2 linked regions of the Homo sapiens genome follow. The protein of the gene in region 1 binds, or shares a complex with, the protein of each later gene. Each region holds a gene or a part of one and is shown in the gene's direction. Other genes may lie near its edges.

The links.
Region 2: the proteins of SOS1 (region 1) and KRAS are in contact, whole or in part, in a crystal structure (PDB 8BE4), measured with the Homo sapiens proteins. Residues at the interface, in NP_005624.2 of Homo sapiens: Lys602, Trp809, Thr810, Lys814, Leu822, Met824, Ile825, Arg826, Thr828, Thr829, Thr832, Leu833, Leu872, Val875, Ser876, Asn879, Ser880, Ser881, Pro882, Tyr884, Ser908, Asp910, His911, Tyr912, Lys913, Phe929, Phe930, Gly931, Ile932, Leu934; in NP_001356715.1 of Homo sapiens: Ser17, Ala18, Ile21, Gln25, Asp30, Glu31, Tyr32, Pro34, Thr35, Glu37, Tyr40, Asp54, Ile55, Leu56, Asp57, Thr58, Ala59, Gly60, Gln61, Glu63, Tyr64, Ser65, Ala66, Met67, Arg68, Asp69, Gln70, Tyr71, Arg73, His95.

What each region holds. Positions count from the first base shown.
Region 1 is NC_000002.12:39,116,914-39,128,312, reverse strand, and holds the start of SOS1 (son of sevenless homolog 1), read left to right. Parts: upstream 1-7,261; 5' UTR 7,262-7,890; coding exon 7,891-7,977; exon of another isoform or gene 7,978-8,222; intron 8,223-11,399.
Region 2 is NC_000012.12:25,237,471-25,247,929, reverse strand, and holds part of KRAS (GTPase KRas), read left to right. Parts: intron 1-2,534; 5' UTR 2,535-2,545; coding exon 2,546-2,656; intron 2,657-10,459. UniProt on the Homo sapiens protein: Ras proteins bind GDP/GTP and possess intrinsic GTPase activity. Plays an important role in the regulation of cell proliferation.

The sequences.
Region 1 (11,399 bases):
ATATGATTTGCATCCCACGAAACAGAAGCATTTGTTGAGACTGATTTGAAACTGAGTCATATGTAGACAGAGGTGATATCAAGAGGATCTGCTTTGCTGGGGTAGACTGTGGCAGAGGTGGCATGGTCTGCAGCCAGCTGTTGTGCAGCAGCTTATTAATTTGGCAGATGACTTCCTGATTCAGCAGCTTTCAACATCAGTGATGGCTGCATTGCCAATTTTGGTCAAGGCAGAGCAGAAATGGGGTCCAGGAGTTGCTGCTGAATCCTTAGCCTAAGTCCTAATCCTCCAGCATTTATAAAAAGGCTGAAGGCAAAATATCATAGTTTGCATATAAAATGATTGTAGAGAATCAGAGATGTTATTTTAGAAAGAAAACTATTAGAACTAATGAAAAATTAAAGAGGCCAGATTTAAGCCAACTATATGAAAAACAATACTTTTTCTTTAACCCAGCAATAATCACGTAGAAATGCAGATTAAAAATCCCACTTCAAATGACAACAAACTTGATAAGAATCAGGAATAAATTTATAAGAAATGCACTAGACTTATTCAGCACAGAGGTTTCATTTCAGTCCTCTTTCCCTCTGTTCTACATTCTCCGAACTAAATCAATAAACAACTAAAAGGAATATTATAATGAAATATTTCATGAGAACTGTAGTCTCAGTTATAAGAAAACCCATTTTTGCCTGATCAGCTGAGCAAATTAAAATTCAATTCTTCTTTAACCGTTACTATTTTCCATCCCAAGGTTCTGTTTTTGTTTTAACTTCTATGTTAGACTTAAGAAAAAAAAACTCTACACCCTATAAATCAAGGCAAACTTTTTCAGTTTTAGAGAAAAGAGGTTAAGAGGAAAACAATTCTAAAAAAGCAATGTTTCTGCCTCGGGGAGAGAAACCTTTAATACAATCCTTATGAAACTGTGTTCCTGGCGTTCCCTTCATAAATCATGCATGTATAAGTAATTTTCAAAGATTTTGGGAAATGAGCTGTTGCACAAGGGATGATGGGATGTGTTATTTTGTTTCTGTATTTTTCTTTCTCTTTCCCTTTTTTACAGTTGCTGGTCATTTATTGGTCAAAAAATAAAGAGGGTGTCTCTGTCAGAAGCAGTCAAAAAATAATAGGTCTGATGAAATATGAATGCCTGAGCTATATTTATCATAAGTAAACTATGTTTAAGAAACATAGCCAAGGCTGGGCACGGTGGCTCACGCCTGTAATCCCAGCACTTTGGGAGGCCAAGATGGGCAGATCACGAGGTCAGGAGTTTGAGACCACCCTGGCCAAGATAGTGAAACCCTGTCTCTACTAAAAATACAAAAATTAGCAGGGCATGGTGGCGTGCGCCTGTAGTCCCAGCTACTCGGGGGGCTGAAGCAGGAGAATTGCTTGAACCCAGGAGGCGGAGGTTGTGGTGAGCCAAGATTGTGCCACTGCACCCCAGCCTGGGCAACAGAGCAAGACTCTGTCTCAAAAAAAAAAGCAAGTAGCCAAAATGATGGTAAACTGCAAGCTCTTTCCTTATAGATTCAGAGCCACATCAATTTCTCCACATTTTTTAAAGAAATAAATCACTTTGGAAAATTACAGATATATTTCTATAATCAATAAATTTGAGGTATTTATATGGATTCATCATAATTAAAAATATTAGTTGTTATCCTATAAAACAATATACATATACAAATCAGTTGGGTCCCCTGGGAAGCAGATGCTGAGCTGGAGTTAAGAATGCAAAAGGTGGCCGGGCGCCGTGGCTCACGTCTGTAATCCCAACACTTTGGGATGCCGAGGTGGGCGGATCACGAGGTCAGGAGATGGAGACCATCCTGGCTAACACGGTGAAACCTCGTCTCTACTAAAAATACAAAAAATTAGCTGGGTGTGGTGGCGGGCGCCTGTAGTCCCAGCTACTCGGGAGGCTGAGGCAGGAGAATCGCTTGAACCTGGGACGCGGAGGTTGCAGTGAGCTGAGATCAGGCCACTGCACTCCAGCCTGGGCGACAGAGCCAGACTCCATCTCAACAACAACAACAACAACAACAACAACAACAACAACAACAACAAAAGATATTCCTTATTTTCTTCTCAGATTTTTTTTTTTTTTTGAGACGGAGTCTTGCTCTGTCATCCAGGCTGGACTGCAGTGGGGCGATCTCGACTCATTGCAAACTCCGCCTCCCGGGTTCAAGCAACTCTCCTGCCTCAGCCTGCCGAGTAGCTGAGATTACAGGCGCATGCGCCACCACGCCCGGCTAATTTTTTTGTATTTTTGGTAGAGACGGGGTTTCACCATGTGGGCCAGGATGGTCTCGATCTCTTGCCCTCATGCCTCGGCCTCCCAAAGTGCTGGGATTACAGGCCTCGGCCTCCCAAAGTGCTGGGATTACAGGCGTGAGCCACTGGCGCCCAGCCTTCTCAGAGTTTTATAATTTTGCTTTTTGCACTTTCTTCAATCCAATGGGATTGTTTTGCGTAGGGTGGGAGTTACAAGTATATTTTTTCTATGTGCATTTATCTATTGCACATTATTTCATTTATTGAACAGTATAGCCTTTACCTATTTATCTGCAATGCTTACGGTATCAGGTTTCTATATATTTGGCTGTCTACTGATCAATTGGTTTGTAGGTTCTTGTGCTAATATCCATTGTTTTAATTACTTTAGCTACGTAATCAGTTTTCACATCTGGTAAATCAAGTTCCCCTACCTTCTTCTTTTACAGGAGAATTAGCCTTTTGCTCTTTCATATACCTTTAAGAATGAGTTTGTCAAATTCCATGACAATCCCTGTTGGGAATTTCGTTAAAGTCACATTGCATTTGGATGTGATCAATTTGAGGAGCTATTACAACTTGAATCAACTGGAAAGAGACTTTTGCAAAAAGTCTTCTCTTCTCTCTTAGAAGATAAACTTGGGCATATCCTATAAGCTCCCTGCAGAAATCCCGAGAAAGAAGTGCGAGGAATAGTCCCATATGTCTTGGAGAACCTCTGATAATCTCTTCTAACTGTACCATCTTTGCAAAGGCAGGGATGGAAACAGAGAGGGAGGAAGAGGGCGGGGGACTCAAAGTATTAGCTAAAGGTGAGTAAAGAGTGGGCATCTAGTGTTCTTCTCAGTCACTATTTTCTCTGGTGTGTTTCCTGGAGATACATTTTTTGGAGGAGAGGAATTGAAAGGAGGCATTGGAAAGACAGAGGGTGAGGGAAAGACAGAGGGTGAATATGTTCTGGAGGAGAGAGTACCTTAACTGCTGATGGCTGAAACTGCTGTTCCTTCTACCTGTTCGGCTCTGAAGGAATCAGAGCCGAAAACAAAAAAAAAACTTTAGAGAGAAGGTAGCATTTGAGCTGAGGGCGCGCAGGGTGGATAAGAGTTCCAGCGCGAGCGTGTATCTGGGAGCTGGGGTGGGGCTGTGGTGGGCGGCATTAGAGAAAAAAGGCGACAGGCATTCTGAATAGCAGGAGACAGAGACAGAAGTGATGTGTTTGTAGGAGGCAAGAGCAGTTCATTTTGAGTGAGAGATACAGCTAGAAAGATAAGTAGCGGTCCGATTGTGCAAGGCCATGGATACCAGGTTAAGGACTTTGGAATTTATCCTGGGACGCCAGTGTGAGTTCTTGAACAGAAAAGTAAGTAGCTGGGTCCGAAGTTCGCGTCAGAAGGATCACTGTGGCTGCAGCAAGGCAGAGAACCAGGTGGCCGCGTCCTGGCCAGCAGGGCAGGCAAAGGCGCGGAGCGTTGCACTTGCACCTGCAGGGGGCACACTGAAGGGCCAAACGCCCACCCCCGCCCCCGTCCTCGCCGCCCTACTCCGATGCGCCGCGCTCGGAACTCGGCTAGCCCGCCTGGACGCGCCCCTCTCGGTCTTCGCCTATTCCGCCCGGACGCGCCTCGTGCGTCACGTCCGCCGTGGCGTGAGGCTCCTTAGAGCTGAGGAGGGAAGCGAAAAGAAGCCTCTGCGCCTGCGCCAGGGCGCACCCGTCGGCGGTAAAAGCTGAGGGGCTGGCGCGGGGGATTGGTGGGCGACACTTTTACGTCTACACGTGCCTACCCGTCTGCACGTTTCTGAGTCCGCACGGTTGTCTTCTCTTGCTGAATGGACATAGGTGTTTTGTTTTGTCCCAAGAGATACAGGCAAGCAGTACAGGGGTGATGGAGTGCTCCTTGACCTTAGCGGGGCTGACCCTGGCACTCCCTGTAGGTCTCCCCGCTGCGAAGCACTGAGTCTCTTCACTGCAGTTTCTCTCCAGTTACCCGCCCTGTCTACGGCCCAAACGGCCATGCTAGTGAAAACCTGCCCTGGCCGCTAAGCAAGCCTAGCCCAGGCTGTAACCCATGTTTCTAGGGCTTGTTTTCCTCTGCAGTCAAATCAGAGATTCGGAGTTGAAGGGGATCTTAGAGGTCAACATGCCCAACCTCTTAGCCCGAGTGAGTGAATGTACGCTTTTTACCTGCACACCCCGAAAATCGCCCGTTTTCTGGAAACAACGTTGATTATGTAGTCCTGGAACTTTCCTGCATGCACATTTTATTCCTTCGACAATATTTATTGCTACCTACTGTGTGCAGGCATTGTAGGCCCCGGGGATACGATTAAAACCAATGAAGAACGAAACGCACAAGATTGTTGATCTCGGCCGGGCGCGGTGGCTCACGCCTGTAGTCCCAGCACTTTGGGAGGCGGAGGTGGGTGGATTGCTTGAGGTCAGGAGTTCGAGACCAGCCTGGCCAACCTAGCGAAACCCCACCTCTACTAAAAATACAAAAATTGGCCGGGCTTGGTGGCGTGCGCCTGTAGTCCCAGCTACTCGGGAAGCTGAGGCAGGAAAATCACTTGAACCTGGGAAGTGGAGGTTGTAGTGAGCCAAGATTCCGCCTGCATTCTAGCCTGGGCAACAAAATGAGACTCTGTCTCAGAAAAAGAAAAAAAAAAAAAAAAGATTGTTTCTCTCTCTCTAGGAGTTTACATTTTATTTGGGGGCAGGAGGGAAACCAACAACCAAAAATAGAGGACTGATTTGATTTAGTGCTAGCAGGAAATAAAAAGAACATAAGGTAGAAATACACAGGTGAGAATTACTTGGAGTGATCGGAGAAGGCCTCTTGGAGGTGGTGATGTTTATAACCAGCCAAGGGAACAGTTAGGGGTTCTAGGCTGAGAGAAGAACAATGTTCTTTAGGCAGGTTGTTGTTTTCTAGGAATAGACAGAAGGCTACTGTGACTGGAGTGTGGTGAGGCGAGGTTGTGAATGGTGAGAAAACATTGAGAATGTGAGCAGGAGCCAGATGCACGCCTTTGTGGGGTACGGTAAGAAGTTTGAAATGTATTCTAAGAGCAATGGGAAGCCAAGCAATAGTTTGGGGTACAGGCTTGATGTTGGTTCATTTGGAACCATACAAACCAATCTCTTCCCCCATATCACAACCCTTTAAATATTTGAAGAGGGCTGACCGGGCGCGGTGGCTCAGGCTTGTAATCACAGCATTTTGGGAGGCCGAGGCGGGTGGATGACGAGGTCAGGAGTTCGAGACCAGCCTGGCCAATACAGTGAAACCCCATCTCTAATAAAAATACAAAAATTACCTGGGTGTGGTGGCAGGCGCCTATAATTCCAGCTTTCATTCCACACACTTTGAAAGTGGGGAGTTTTTCAAATGTAAACCAAGTATGTATATTTTTATTTTTTCAATAAAACAATAAAGATGGGTCTCGCCAGCCTGGTCTCAAACTCCTGAACTCAAATGGTCCGCCCACCTCGGCCTCCCAAAGTGCTGGGATTACAGGCGTGAGCCACTGCGCCCGGCCGGTCTGTGTGTATGTGTGTGTGTGTGTGTGTGTGTGTGTATATTTTTTTTTGAATTGAAACGGAGTTTTGGTTTTGTTGCCCAGGCTGGAGTGCAGTGGCATGATCCCGGCTCACTGCAACCTCTGCCTCCTGGGTTCAAGCGATTCTCCTGCCTCAGCCTCCCAAGTAGCTGGGATTACAGGCGCCCACCACCATGCTCGGCTAATTTTTGTATTTCTTATGGAGACAGGTTTTCACAGTGTTGGCCAGGCTAGTCTGGAACTCCTGACCTCAGGTGATCCATCCGCCTCGGCCTCCTAAAGTGCTGGGATTACAGGCATGAGCCACCTCGCCTGGCCGGCCTGTGTATTTTTAAAGGAAATAACCTAAGAGTTGTTTTTCCAGATTTTCAAAGAGGTCCTGTAAAGATTAAGAACCACTGAACCTTTCTCGTTTATGTGATCCTGGTTACTGTTCTCAGGAATAGCAGGACACAATGTCAGCTTTAACCCAGGCTAGTTCCTCTAAACTGCCTTCTTATCGGTGAAATGAAAATAATAGGGTTGCTATGGGGATTAAATGAGATGATACTCAAAAAAATGATAATTAATGATAAATCATAAGGTGTCTGCCACAAAGTGCCCCTATTATAAACAAACAGTGGCCTGGAGGGACAGTTTATAAATACTGCTCCTTTAGCATTCCACTAACATTGACTGAGTGCCTGTTCTACACTGTGTAGAGGCCCTGGTGAAAAAGATCTGCCTTCCAGTTTATTATCTAGTCGAAAGAACCGCAAAAGATAACAAAACACAATAGACTGAACGCCCTGAGAGGGGCATAAGTGCAGTGCTCTAGGAGCTGTAAAAGAGGTCTCGATATCCACTGGAGGAAAGTGCTTACTGGAGTTCATTTCTGGAGTGGGTTTAAAAGATGAACAGAGGGAATCTAAAACATTCACACAAAATCAATACTACACGTACACATTTTATTATTTTGTGGAAAGACCACTTAGAAACACCGCAATCACTTCTACTACTCAGCAGATACTGAGCAGTAGGTTTCGTGACAGAGCACCTGTCTTTTGTCCAGTCTGTTTACTATACATTGCGTGCTCTGGGCAGTCCTTATCTTCGTGTTCAGGAACAAAGTACACACACCCCTTTCCGAAACGAAGGGCCCAGGGACTCCGAGAAGGGTGGGAGCCCTCACGGCCAGGCCACACAATGGGGAGCCTCTTTACCCTAGTCATCACCCACCCTTGCAGGCCCCACTTTGCCAGGGTGCGACTTCTCGGGCCCCTTCGCCCCTCCCCTGCAGCCCCCAGGAGCGCAGCCACAGCCCGGCCGGGCGCCCTCCCTGTCTCTCTCTCTCTTTCTCTCTCGAGCTTTCCTCCTCCTTCACCGGGAGCCGGAAAACCCGGAGCGAACCAGCCCAGCACGGCAGCGCATGCTCAGTAGCGAGCAGGTTCAGTTCGCTAGTAGGAAGCTCCAGCGCTACACCGGCGGCGGCGGTGGCGGCGGCGGCCGCGGCGGCACCTCAGGGCAGCCAGATTCCCCAACAACGACCTCCGGTCCTTCCCCTTCCCCGCGAGACCTCCGCCCCAGCTCCGCCCCGCCCGGGGCTCTTGCGTTTCGGAGTCCCAACTACGCGGAGCGGGCGCCGCGGCCGGAGCGTCCCTCCACACGTCCTCCCCCAGCCGCCAGCTCCGCCGCGGGGCCAGACCGGGCCCGGGAGTGCAGCCCCGGCGGGCGGGCGGCGGCCGCGGCAGAGGGCAGCCCGGGGCGGCGCCGGCGGGCCGGGGAGGGGCGGGGGGCCTGGCCCCGGGGCGGTGGTGCGGGATGCCGCCGCCTCCGGGCCGCGTCCGTTCTCCACGGCTGGTACCTGTGTCGGGTGGGTGGCCAGGCGCGGGCCTCGCCCCCCAGCCCCCTCGCCAGGGCTAGCCCGGCTGCGCGGCGCCCGGAGGGGGCCGGGCCGTCCGGTGGGGCCGCGGCCCTGTTCCGCGCTGCGAGCTCGCCCTCTCGCGGCTCCCTGGCCCGGCCGCCGCCGCCCCTCTCCCCGCCCAGAGGCGCCCCGGGGGCACCATGCAGGCGCAGCAGCTGCCCTACGAGTTTTTCAGCGAAGAGAACGCGCCCAAGTGGCGGGGACTACTGGTGCCTGCGCTGAAAAAGGTGAGGAGCACGCGGGACCCCGCTTCCCGGCCGCAGCCCCCCAGCGCGGGCGCTGGGGAAGGGCTGGGGAGGCGGGGCGCGCGCAGGGCCGTCTTTCTTCCCGGTCTCGCCGCGTCTCCAAAAGGACGGCGCACACGGAGAGGCCCCCCTCATACGGCTGGCTCTCGGTGTTGACATCCACCGGGTGTGTGGGAATGCCGCAGGGAGCCGGGGGGAGTTTATCCGGATAATCCAACCCCTGAGAGGTGAATGCTTTGCCCTTTGATTCCAGGACAACAACAGTTGGAGGAGCCTCAGTTTTCAGCGGAGGTCAAAGCAGGCCACTTTTCCGTCTTCTTGGTCTTAGCCCGGAGCTGCTGTCAGCCTACCGTTTTAGGTGTCCAGTACGCTGGTTTTAGTGGCTTGAGAATGCCCTGGCCGTAAGGCTTGCTCAAAGGAATTGCGAGCTCGCCTGCCAGTAGGAACGTGGCCTGCTCTGCTCGCCGTCAGTATTCACTCCTCATTCTCCTGGTTTCCCCCGCTCCTCCGATTAACAGGGGCTGGTGCACATGCTACCAATTTCAGGGGGGTTTTGTTTTGTTTTTGCAGCGTTCGAGATTCTTGGTGCTGTCATTTGGCTTGTTAAGAATTTTTAGCCTTTGTATGTTTAAGTTTGCTACATTGTTACCTGAAGTTACATACCCCCGATCTGTGCTTTTAAATGTTTTAGTATAATTAGGAAGTGTTCTTACGTTTTTAAAGCTTCTAAAGCAGCAGTGTGACAACCAGACTATTTTTGTTTTCTTTTCTTCATTTACCTTTTCTGTAAAGATTGCTTTACTCTTCTAATAGTGTTTCTAAATCCCAGTTTCTTGCTGCTCAAAGAATGTTTCATGCTAACTGCTTCTACTAAGAATGGAGATTATGTTTTACCTTTTATGCTAAACATTAAAAGGTGTCTGATATTTCTCAAAGGCCAGTAACTTTTACTTTCCCTTTTGCCCTGTTCTCCTCCGGTCCCTCTTGCTGTCTTACAGTGGAAACTATTTGGTTTTTCAGGAGAATTTGCTCATATATTTCTGGCTTAAATTACGGACATTTTCCCCTTCAAGTGTCTGACTAGTCACAAACATCTATGTAATTTTTTTTAAAAAACAGAAGAAAAGATGCCATATATCTTACATACTTTACTCCTTAGAAATCCCTTCAGGCTCTCACTCCTTACTTTTGCTTTACTTGCAAGTTTGACTTCTTAGCTTGTAATGGAAGGGGTGTAGGAGGTCTCTGTGATGCTAGAAGCTGGTGTCCGGATAGAGTAAGGGGAGACACGGAAATTGTTTAAAAACGTGTAAAGGAACTCATAAAGCATTGCCAAATAGGGGCCATTTTGCTTAGAGGCAAAAGCAGCTCCTTTCCCAGGGGAATCACCAAGGTATCAGCTGAGGATCCTTTGAAGCAGTGGAAAGAATATTGTAGGAGTTGACAGACGTTGTTTAATTCTGCCACACTGGTGGCCCTTGCTGAAATCTGTCCACAAAAGCATTTTGTTTGGCTGGCATAGTGTTGTTTTATTTTTAAATGTAATTAGTTGCTAATATTTGAAAATGGGAGATATTACATAAAACCTGAATTTTCGGCTTTTCTTGAAGAATAGGAAGGTCTTGTCATTTAGGGCCTGTATTCAAGCGAGGCACTAAACTGCTGGAGTTGAGTAAATGGCTCCCTTCTTTAGACAGGTCATGTATCTCCACCTTACCACAGCCCCCACTTGTCCTTTTTGCATATTTACATAAAACAGCTTTTGACTTTAAGTTAGAGATACTTTTGCAGTAGAAGTGATAGGAGGAGGTGGAAGTGTACATAATCTAGCTGATATGTAAGGTTCTTCCAATTCTTATTTAAATAGCCACTAACAATGATTCTAAACAAGATTGAAAATACAGTATGTTTCATATCTGGATATGCTGTTGGTAGCTCAAAACCTACGTTTTTACTTGCCTGCTGGACATTTCATGTGGATATCTCCATATCTTGATTTCTTCCTTTGATTTGTTATTGAATTATTCGTAGATACATCCGACTTGTGTTCTCTTACTCTTACCTGAGGCTCTTTGGATATGCTAGTCCCTTCATCCTTCTTTGCCTGGTCCAACACTACTCATCCTTCTAGACTCACTCAACCTGAACTGTCAAATCATCAGGGCTGAGTTGGATATTACTCCTTTGTTTTCTTTTTGCACCCTGTCCTAGCTCTGTGAATTTTAAGTTCCTATTTACTTGCCTATAACTAGATTGGATGCTCCTTGAGAACAGGGATGATATCTTACCCACATTTTATTCCCCATACTTATAGTGCTTGACATCTGGTAGGCACTCAATTTGAATAAATAGGTGAGGGGATATACAAACTAAAACTATCACTTCTCTCCTCCACCTGTCATTTCAGTTTTTCTTCTCGATTAATGGCTTTATTGTTACATTTGACTGGTTTAAAATGTTGGGGTCATCTCTGGCTTCTTTGTATTACTGTGCACACTCAGGTAGAGCCTGTATGTTCATTTCCCTTTGACATGTTCTTCTAGTCTATTCCTCCTCCGACTTCTCTAATTGAGTCTCCTTTGTCAGACTACTGTGATAACTTCTTAATGGGGTTCACTGGCCCCCACCTCACCTTCTGTTTTTCAAATCTCACCAGTTATAGGACACTTCTGAACATGTCACACTCAGAATTGTTGATGTCTTTTGAGTTCAACCTATGCTAAAGTGCACTTTTTAGCATAGAATTAACAGCAATTGATATTTGGCTTCATCCTGCTTTTCTGACTGGATTGTCTACCATAACCTTTTATCTCCTTTTTGCTTTAGCCAGTCCGGACTGCTACTTTTCCTGAATATGGCTGGAATGTCCCACTGTATCTGTTTCACCGCATCTATGAGTCTAAGTCCTATCTTATCTATTGCACAAATATATCATGCCTACTATAGACCAGGTATTGCCCTTGACACTCAGGCTAAAAAGGTAAATGACAGGGCCGGGCGCAGTGGCTCACGCCTGTAATCCAGCACTTTGGGAGAGCAAGGTGGGCGGATCACGAGGTCAGGAATTCAAGACCAGCCTGGCCAACGTGGTGAAACCCCATCTCTACTAAAAAATACAAAAATTAGCCTGGCGTGGTGGTGGGCACCTGTAATCCCAGCTACTCGGGAGGCTGAGGCAGGAGAATAGCTTGAAACCGGAAGACGGAGGTTGCAGTGGGGCGAGATTGCACCACTGCACTCCAACCTGGGCAACAAGAGCAAAACTCTGTCTCAAAAAAAAAAAAAAAAAGTAAATGACATAATCAGAAAAGACTAAATTAGAACATGATGGGAAGTGGCAGGGCATGTCTGGAGAGACAACTGGTTTATGAACAGTTTTTATATATGTTAAGCTAAGGAATTTA
Region 2 (10,459 bases), on another chromosome or scaffold:
AGCCCATTACTTGGTAACATGAATAAAATATTTTATGAAAAATAACTATTTTCCAAAACAAAACCAAAACTTAGAAAAGTGGTATTGTTTCACACTTCAGTAAATCTCTTTAATGATGTGGCTTAATAGAAGATATGGATTCTTATATCTGCATCTGCATTCAATCTATTATGATCACACATCTGGAAAACTTGTGAAAGAATGGGAGTTAAAAGGGTAAAGGACATCTTAATGTTATTATGAAAACAGTTTTGACCTCTTGCACACCAGAAAAGTCTTAGTAACCTGAGGGGTTCCTAGACCACATTTTGAGAACTGTTTTAGGCTATGCAAACTGGTTGGGGGGAGGTTGGGGTAGGCAGAGAGCTAGAAGATACATTTTAGTGTAATTCTCCTCATCTATTCCTAATTGCTTTGGCCTACATTTGAAATAAAGCGTGGAGGCAAACGGGATAAGATACATGTTTGTAGTGGTTGTTAACTTCACCCTAGACAAGCAGCCAATAAGTCTAGGTAGAGCAGAGTAAGGCGGGGAACTATGCCGTGACCGTGTGTGATACAATTTTTCTAGCCTGTGGTGCTTTTTGCGGCAGGGCTTAGGAGTAAGGTTAGTATGTTATCATTTGGGAAACCAAATTATTATTTTGGGTCTTCAGTCAATTATGATGCTGTGTATATTTAGTGTTTATCTACAATATATGCACATTCATTAATTTGGAGCTACTCATCCTATAATAAATAGTTGTGCATTTACTCCCATTTTTTTCTGCATTTCTCTCCTTATTTATAATTATGTGTTACATGAGGGAAAGGAGGTGAAATTAAACATTCATATTATTTCAAAAAATTTGAAACAACTAACTAAAAAATATGTTTTATTTTCTGTATGGTGTTTGTTATACAATCTGTCAATATTCATGCACCTCTTGGGAGACAGTGTATGAAAAGCAAAGAGTAACAGTCACATGGATTACTGATTACTGAGATATATTCACTTGCATCTTTTTTTTTTTTTGAGACGGAGTGGCTCTGTCGCCCAGGCTGGAGTGCAGTGGCGTGATCTCGGCTCACTGCAAGCTCCGCCTCCTGGGTTCACGCCATTCTTCTGCCTCAGCCTCCCAAGTAGCTGGGACTACAGGCGCCCGCCACCACGCCCGGCTAATTTTTTTATATTTTTAGTAGAGACGGGGTTTCACCGGGTTAGCCAGGATGGTCTTGATCTCCTGACCTCGTGATCCACCCTCCTCGGCCTCCCAAAGTGCTAGGATTATAGGCGTGAGCCACCGTGCCCGGCTCACTTGCATCTCTTAACAGCTGTTTTCTTACTAAAAACAGTGTTTATCTCTAATCTTTTTGTTTGTTTGTTTGTTTTGAGATGGAGTCTTACTCCGTCACCCAATCTGGAGTGCAGTGGCGTGATCTGGGCTCACTGCAACCTCTGCCTCCCGGGTTCAAGTGATTCTCCTTCCTCAGCCTCCCCAGTAGCTAGGACTACAGGAGAGCGCCACCACGCCTGATTAATTTTTGTATTTTTAGTAGAGAGAGGGTTTCACCATATTGGCCAGGCTGGTCTTGAACTCCTGGCCTCAGGTGATCCACCCGCCTTGGCCTCTGAAAGTGCTGGGATTACAGGCATGAGCCGCCGCACCCGGCTTTCTAATCTTTATCTTTTTTTGTGCAGCGGTGATACAGGATTATGTATTGTACTGAACAGTTAATTCGGAGTTCTCTTGGTTTTTAGCTTTATTTTCCCCAGAGATTTTTTTTTTTTTTTTTTTTTTTGAGACGGAGTCTTGCTCTATCGCCAGGCTGGAGTGCAGTGGCGCCATCTCGGCTCATTGCAACCTCGGACTCCTATTTTCCCCAGAGATATTTCACACATTAAAATGTCGTCAAATATTGTTCTTCTTTGCCTCAGTGTTTAAATTTTTATTTCCCCATGACACAATCCAGCTTTATTTGACACTCATTCTCTCAACTCTCATCTGATTCTTACTGTTAATATTTATCCAAGAGAACTACTGCCATGATGCTTTAAAAGTTTTTCTGTAGCTGTTGCATATTGACTTCTAACACTTAGAGGTGGGGGTCCACTAGGAAAACTGTAACAATAAGAGTGGAGATAGCTGTCAGCAACTTTTGTGAGGGTGTGCTACAGGGTGTAGAGCACTGTGAAGTCTCTACATGAGTGAAGTCATGATATGATCCTTTGAGAGCCTTTAGCCGCCGCAGAACAGCAGTCTGGCTATTTAGATAGAACAACTTGATTTTAAGATAAAAGAACTGTCTATGTAGCATTTATGCATTTTTCTTAAGCGTCGATGGAGGAGTTTGTAAATGAAGTACAGTTCATTACGATACACGTCTGCAGTCAACTGGAATTTTCATGATTGAATTTTGTAAGGTATTTTGAAATAATTTTTCATATAAAGGTGAGTTTGTATTAAAAGGTACTGGTGGAGTATTTGATAGTGTATTAACCTTATGTGTGACATGTTCTAATATAGTCACATTTTCATTATTTTTATTATAAGGCCTGCTGAAAATGACTGAATATAAACTTGTGGTAGTTGGAGCTGGTGGCGTAGGCAAGAGTGCCTTGACGATACAGCTAATTCAGAATCATTTTGTGGACGAATATGATCCAACAATAGAGGTAAATCTTGTTTTAATATGCATATTACTGGTGCAGGACCATTCTTTGATACAGATAAAGGTTTCTCTGACCATTTTCATGAGTACTTATTACAAGATAATTATGCTGAAAGTTAAGTTATCTGAAATGTACCTTGGGTTTCAAGTTATATGTAACCATTAATATGGGAACTTTACTTTCCTTGGGAGTATGTCAGGGTCCATGATGTTCACTCTCTGTGCATTTTGATTGGAAGTGTATTTCAGAGTTTCGTGAGAGGGTAGAAATTTGTATCCTATCTGGACCTAAAAGACAATCTTTTTATTGTAACTTTTATTTTTATGGGTTTCTTGGTATTGTGACATCATATGTAAAGGTTAGATTTAATTGTACTAGTGAAATATAATTGTTTGATGGTTGATTTTTTTAAACTTCATCAGCAGTATTTTCCTATCTTCTTCTCAACATTAGAGAACCTACAACTACCGGATAAATTTTACAAAATGAATTATTTGCCTAAGGTGTGGTTTATATAAAGGTACTATTACCAACTTTACCTTTGCTTTGTTGTCATTTTTAAATTTACTCAAGGAAATACTAGGATTTAAAAAAAAATTCCTTGAGTAAATTTAAATTGTTATCATGTTTTTGAGGATTATTTTCAGATTTTTTTAGTTTAATGAAAATTTACCAAAGTAAAGACCAGCAGCAGAATGATAAGTAAAGACCTGTAAGACACCTTGAAGGTCATGGAGTAGAACTTCCATCCCAAGCAGATGAGGATTTATTTAATCTCAAAGACCTCCAGGAGGGGACATTCCCCAACTGTCCTTGTTAACTCATTTTCAGAACATATTTATTAGCATATTTTACATGTAATTTGGATCTTCATGTTAAATTTAACATCAGTGGAGATGGAAAATAAGCATATCGCCTTGTCTTTGAAATAGCCCTATATTGTTAGATTGTTTCTTAGGCTTCTTTACCCTGGGTTAAGCAGTCCTAATACTTTAGCATTTATTCTACATCTAGTGTACTAATTTAAAAAAATCAGTTCTGAAAAATTTCTAAGAACTTTCTTCAAGTTCCAAGCTGTGAAATCTAGAACAGGTCAAAGTGCCTTATTAACGTACTGTACTGTGTAGTGTCTTGAAGAGACACTTTGCGCTGAGGCAAGTTCTGAGGGCATTGGGTGGCCTTGGGAAGATATTTATGCAGTTTAGAACCTGGAGAATTGATTAGATAACTAATCATAAGGAAACGTCACATATTTTTGGTACTATAAAAAAGTGGAGAAATAATGCCTATTTGCAAAGATTTGATTTAAACATAGAAACAACTTTATTTGGCTTCCAATTTTAAGAATTTACAGCAGTAAAGGGGAACAGTCTAATTGAAGTAGACTGCCTATGCAATAGTCTCTGTATATTTACTTTTGACAAGTTAATTCAATGTGTACTATAGTTTTGTTTCTTTGAAGAGGTTTGAATAGTGCACCCATTTTAATCTGTATTGCAAATTCAGGGTTACTTGGCAGACTCTACTATTTAAATCAGATGTAAAAGGAAGTTTTAATATAATTCACTTTATGCCTGAAAGTTTTCCTGGGATTTTGGAAGGTGATTTTACTGGAAATGCTGTCTGTCTTCCCTGAAAATCTGAGAAATTCCATTACACTTTGTTTCCAATCAGAGGTCATGAGTGCTATATGAGTATATACAGCATGACGTCATGAATGTGATAAAGTGGGTTAGGAAACCTTTTGCTAATGATTGTTAAAATGCAATATAAATGTTGAAGAAATAAAGCTAACAGTTAAGCCTTTATTTGGGCGGAAGGCTGAAAAAGTTTATAAACTTAAACCTATAACTCTGCTTATGATTTCTGCCAAACCAGAAGACTTGACTCTGGGAAGCATTGGTTACCTGTGAACTTTGAAACTGACGGTCCCTGACGTAGTTTAGTCACCTGGGAAAAGGTATCTGAGATTATCTCTTATCTCCCAAGTTACAGTGAGTCTCTGAGGGAACTGACACATTACATTAAGTTCTTGGTGTAGTTAAACTGTAAGAAAGGCAGGAGAACTTAGTAGTTAAATAGTTGGTTAAATGGAAATGCTGACTCCATGTTATTGTAAAAAGTTAAAAATTTAGGAGGATATGGGGATTTCACTGCCATTGCAGGTTTTGATTGGTATTTACCAATCCGTGTGGGTCAGAGAGAAAATTAGAAAGGATATGACTGCACATTTTGGAATTATTAGCAGTTTTTCTACATTTAAAATGGAAATAAATTTTTTAAAAATTTAAATCAAGTAATACTGTATTTTTTGGTGATTTAGATTTTTCAAAATTTACACTAAGAGATAGTAAGGAGGGTGGCTATTGTTTCTTTCAATAATGTCTCTGAGAGGTTGTAACTCATCTAAGGATACGTAGCTAATAAGTGGTAGGATTTCAATTTAAATTCTCTGAGACCAAGTTAAGTAGAATTTGCACTGTACTCTTGTATAACTTTTTAAAACTGAAAATTAGCTATCTTTCAAATTAAGAAAATATTTACTAATGGAGACTAATTCAGATTTGTAAGTATACCAAAATTTGAACTTAGCCTGCTATCTAATGGCAACTTAGTGGCAGAGGTATGATGTAAAATCATTCAGGTATGACACATAGATGGAGTATGTTTGTATTCGAGGCTGTGCACATAATCACCTTTACTTGTATTGTGAAGTATATATTGTTATCTTTTATGAAGCCCACTAAAGAGATAATGAAATACCTCGTTATTAGGGCAAGATTATTGAAAACTCAAAATAGCCCCCAAACACAATACTTGGCTAGAAATATATACCTTTATAGTTCAGAGATCATTTATTATCAAAACCCTGAAGTTTTTTTTCTAAGGTAAAATTTGGTGGAAGAGGAAAAGTCTCGTTTTAAAAAAATGTAGGTAGTTACAGAGATCAGAATGATTAGTTGATCACTTACCAAATATATATTAAGTATCTACTGTATATAATATGCTAGTAAGAATAAATATAGCAGGAAGTATTTTTTCCCAGGCTCTAATTGTTTGACATCAGCATGCTTTTATTGTGGCACTTATAATTCAGTTCAAGTATTATGCCCCTCTTTGATGGAACAGTTTCCTATTCAGTAAGGAAGACCAGATTAATCATTGGATTGGTTTGTTTCATCTTTAGTGTTCTGAGCTGTAGAGTATTTATTTACCAAGGTTTATTTTAATTTTTATTTTATTTTTATTTTTCCATGTTCATTGTAGAATTCATTTTACCTACGAATGAAGTATGTAGATTATAGAGAGAAAATTTGTAAAATTAAACTGATACTGAAGACTGGTATAAGAAAAGCCTTATGTAATTTGTAAGCTGCTATTCTTCTGAGTTTATACATATATCTTTAGTAATCAATGAGGGATGGTTGGGTGACTGCCCTCCAGGGGACATTTGGCAACATCTGGAGATGTTTTTGGTTGCCACAACTTGGGGAGAGAGTACTGCTACTGGCATCTATTGAGTAGATGCTATTACTTTAAATGGCAAAGCTGCAGTTACCTTTGCACCAACCTAATATTAAACTTCCTGCAGTGCACGGGAAAGCCCCCACAACAGGGTTATCTGACCCCAAACCTCAATGGTGTTAAGATCCAAACCTTGATATGTTAACCTGTAGCTTTAAACATCCTTTAAATTGTCAAATTCATGTCCCTGACATAAGGTTTATGTTAGATTTTCAAGTATAACAAAGATTTAAACTTTAACTTTTGTACGTTAATGATATGTTAGCTTACTCCAGTCTTCTATTAAAACATTCTGTTTTTAAAATCAGAGACACACAGCAATTTTATAAATCATTTCTCTTCAAGGCTGTGAAGCTCTCCCCACTTTTGTGAGTGCCCTCTACTGGTCAAATTATTTGCTTTATAACAAGTAACAGTGAAATCCTAAGTTTGTGTAGTTTCGCTGTTTAAATTATGGGTGGCATCAATTTATAAATATATTCGTTTTATTTAAAAGTCTTATATGATTGATTTCGTATCATTTTTGCTCTCTGCTAATATTAATATAAAGATTACTGTCTGTATTAGTTAGGCCTAACTAAGTAGGTGAGTATAGTGAACTAAGAAAGGAAACGAGGCAGTATATAAGAAAATAGGGTGGTTCAGTTGTTAACACTTACTGAGCTTACTTTGTTGAAGGGACTAAAAGGCAGCAGTGTGGCTCTCTGAGCTTCTTTGCATGCACTCAGGAGCTGCTTAATGGAGTCCAAGGCTTGGTGGTGTGTTACAGGGGATGATAGGAGGGTCCTATTCAGAAGTGGCAAATTGTGAAAGTGCACATTTTGTAGAGTTTTATAGGACTGTAGAATAGTTGTGAGCACCTGATTTTTAGAATAAACAGAAAACTCAGGTACTGTATTTAGGTCAAATTAAGAATAAGTATTTATTAAGACCTGAATATAAAACTTTACTGGTCATGGTTTTTTTCTACCTTGGGTTTTTATAAATCCAAAGATTTAAAAACATACAAATGGAAGTTGGTAATGGAATTAAGTGAAAGGAAAAAATGATTTTATGGTTTGGAATCTCCTAAGATTCTGGTTTTAACAATACAACTAATTCCTTAATCCTAGAAATGTTCTTCACTGCCCACTTTGTACCATGCAGTCTTCCTGTGGGCTAGAGATACACTGAGGCGCAAAACAGACCAGATTCCTGCCTTCATGGAGCTTATTAGTTTTAGGTATCTCTAGATTTCTTGTAATACCTATTACAATGCCTGCACATCAGTTCATTCATGTGGGTTCAACGTAGTACTCAGTACATGGCAAATTCAAGTTTTACTTTTCGGAACTTCATGGATTTTTTTCCTCAGAATATCTTTTATCCATAATTGGTTGAATCTGTAGATGCAGTACCCATGGATATGGATGGCCCACTTTATTTTGAAGAGCAGTGTTTCTAGGCAATCATGCTAATTATATATGACTTAATTTAGAGGCTTTATACTTAAGAGCATTACATTTCTGGCGTCTCTTAACCATTATTATTTCATAATGTGTAGGTTATGGAACAGTTAAATTATTGGGATCTTAATATAGAAATTAGTAGAAATAAGCCAGATATGGTGGCTCATGCCTGTAATCTTAGCACTTTGGGAGGCTGAGGCTATTCGCTGTACTATTTTTTACTACTTTTCTATAGGTTTGAAATTTTTTCAAAATAAAACATTGAAAAAAGTAAGGTAGGTAGTGTGTCCCTCCTTAATCCTTTCAAATATTTTATTTTCACTATTTCTATTAATTTTTTTTTTTGTTTTTGAGATGGAGTCTCGCTCTGTTGCCCAGGCTGGAGTGCAGTGGCGCGATCTTGGCTCACTGCAGCCTCCACCTCCTGGGTTCCAGCCATTCTCCTGCCTCAGCCTCCTGGGTAGCTGGTATTACAGGCATGCACCACCACACCCAATTACTTTTTGTATTTTTAGTAGAGACGGGGTTTCACCATGTTGGCCAGGCTAGTCTCGAACTCCTGACCTCGTGATCTGCCCGCCTCAGCAGTGTCACTGCTTCTAGACCGTTTTCAAGGCACAGAGCTTAGAAATGCATGTTACTAAGAAATCAAGAGTTAACTATTTTTCACCTTCTTTCTCCCGCAGTGAGAACCCTGGTTCTACCCTGTTTCTCCTTGTGTAAATTTTAATGCTAAACTATACACTTGTGAAATAAAAATGATAATGTCATTCTTAAATTATGGATCTTGCAGTGTTATCTAAGTAACATAGATTGAGTGATTTAACTTTAGGTTTCCTTATTTGTGGAATTTGGATAAATATTTTTCACCCTTGAGAAAAGTGAGACTCCTTTCTCATCATCAGAGTATCCTTAAACCATTAAGGCAAACATTTGGGAAAAAACTGAGCTATCTGGCTGCATAAAAATTAAGTTTTCTTTAACAAAGATAGAAGACAAATGAAAACCTAGAAAAACCATTTGGTTCAAGTAACAGGAAGCTATCTTATATATGAATTAGAGAAAAGCAAACACACAAATAGAAAAAAAGGGATGGGGGGTACTAAAGATATAAATAGCTTGTCTACCAAAAAAGAAATAAAATAAATAACATGAACATATAAAAAGACACTTACTTCATGAATGTGATGCAAGTTCAAACAATAAATAACATTTCTGTACTTTCATATTGGCTAAGGTTAAAATGATAACTGCTAGGAAGGGTATGGAGAAGTGTGCGCCTTGCACTGTAGTGGGAGTATAGACCCTCAGACTTTATGGAGGTCAGTCTGGAAATATGTTTCAAAATGTAAACTACATGTCCTTTGACCAGGTAATTCAACTTCTTGAAATTTATCCAAGGATTTAATTGGATAAATGTTTAAGATGTATATATAAGAATGTTTACTGCAGTGTTGTTTATGATTTTAAAAAAATGGAAATCATCTTCATGTCTACCAATAGAGAATGGGTGAATAAATTATGGTATGTCCATATATACAAATTACATAGTTGTTGGAAATATTAGGTAGATTTAGATATACTGATGTTCAAAAATGTCCATTATGTAAGTGAAGCTGGGTCACAGCACCTTGTGTTGAGTATGATTTCATCTAGAAACAAAATTACTCCCTCATCCTTTGTTGTGTTTTAGTTTTTTAAAATAAGCTTATACCATTGGGCTGGGGGAAAAGTAAATACTCGTTTTGGAGAGAGAAAAGGGCACTAAAGTTTCAGATACCGTTAGATTATTTCATGCTTATTTTTCAAGCCTCAATAAATTACATAATTCACATGTAGTCTTGGATTAAGGAAATTGCTATTAAGGCTAAATAAATAATATGAGAGGTATATAATATAAAATATGAACATTATATTGGCATTAAGATTGGATCCACGGTCATTCCAGCCTCTCATTCTTACCTGGACTTCAAGTGATCACTTGTGGGCAAATGCCATCTGACTTGAACAGGTTACACATGTATGCTCATTATATCGTTATTTTCAAAATTTGTCATATAAATTTTCCTTGAGTTCATTCAGATTTTTGAACTAGTTTTTTCTCTTGGGAGTAGTACACACTTAATTCTCTCTAGTACTAAGCTAATGTTCACCATTCTTATAATTTTAAGTATCCAGCATTTAGTAAAGAAGTCTTTGTTTTCTTTATCCTTACTTTTAGTGAATGTCTTAGTTTTTAATTGAAAATTCTGCCATGAAAATAAGCTCTTTAACATCTTCACTCCCTAATCAAAACAGAAATCCTTCATAGCCTTCAGTTGTAGCTATCCTTCCCTGTGATTTGTCCAGCTCCATTATATTTATTTTGAAATATGGTGACCAGTTTTGCAAAATTATTTCAACTGTAGGTGCCCAGTGATTTTGTAAGGAGAAGATACTGTTTCTGAACAGTTCTCAGTAGCCAGTGGCCTGCCCCTACTTTTTGGCCTGCGTGTAGTATATAAAATAATGCAGTTAACTTTTTATAGCACTTTTCATTTTATAAAGAGATTTTCATGGTCTTTAATATTAATCTATGTATAAAGTCCTGTATGCAGTTTTACCTACTTTCACAGCTGAAGGAACAATAGCTTAGAGAAGATGTGAGATAAAGTAGTTTGCCCAAGCCCATAGCACAAATAAGTGAAGTTCTTCGGCTGTCCATGGATCGAAGACTCCCAAGTCTATCTCTAGCCTGGACTTCTGTCCTGAGCACCAGACATGTATGTATATCAAGATGCCTGCAGGTCATATCCACCAGGACAACCCATGAGTACAGGGAATTCAACATGCC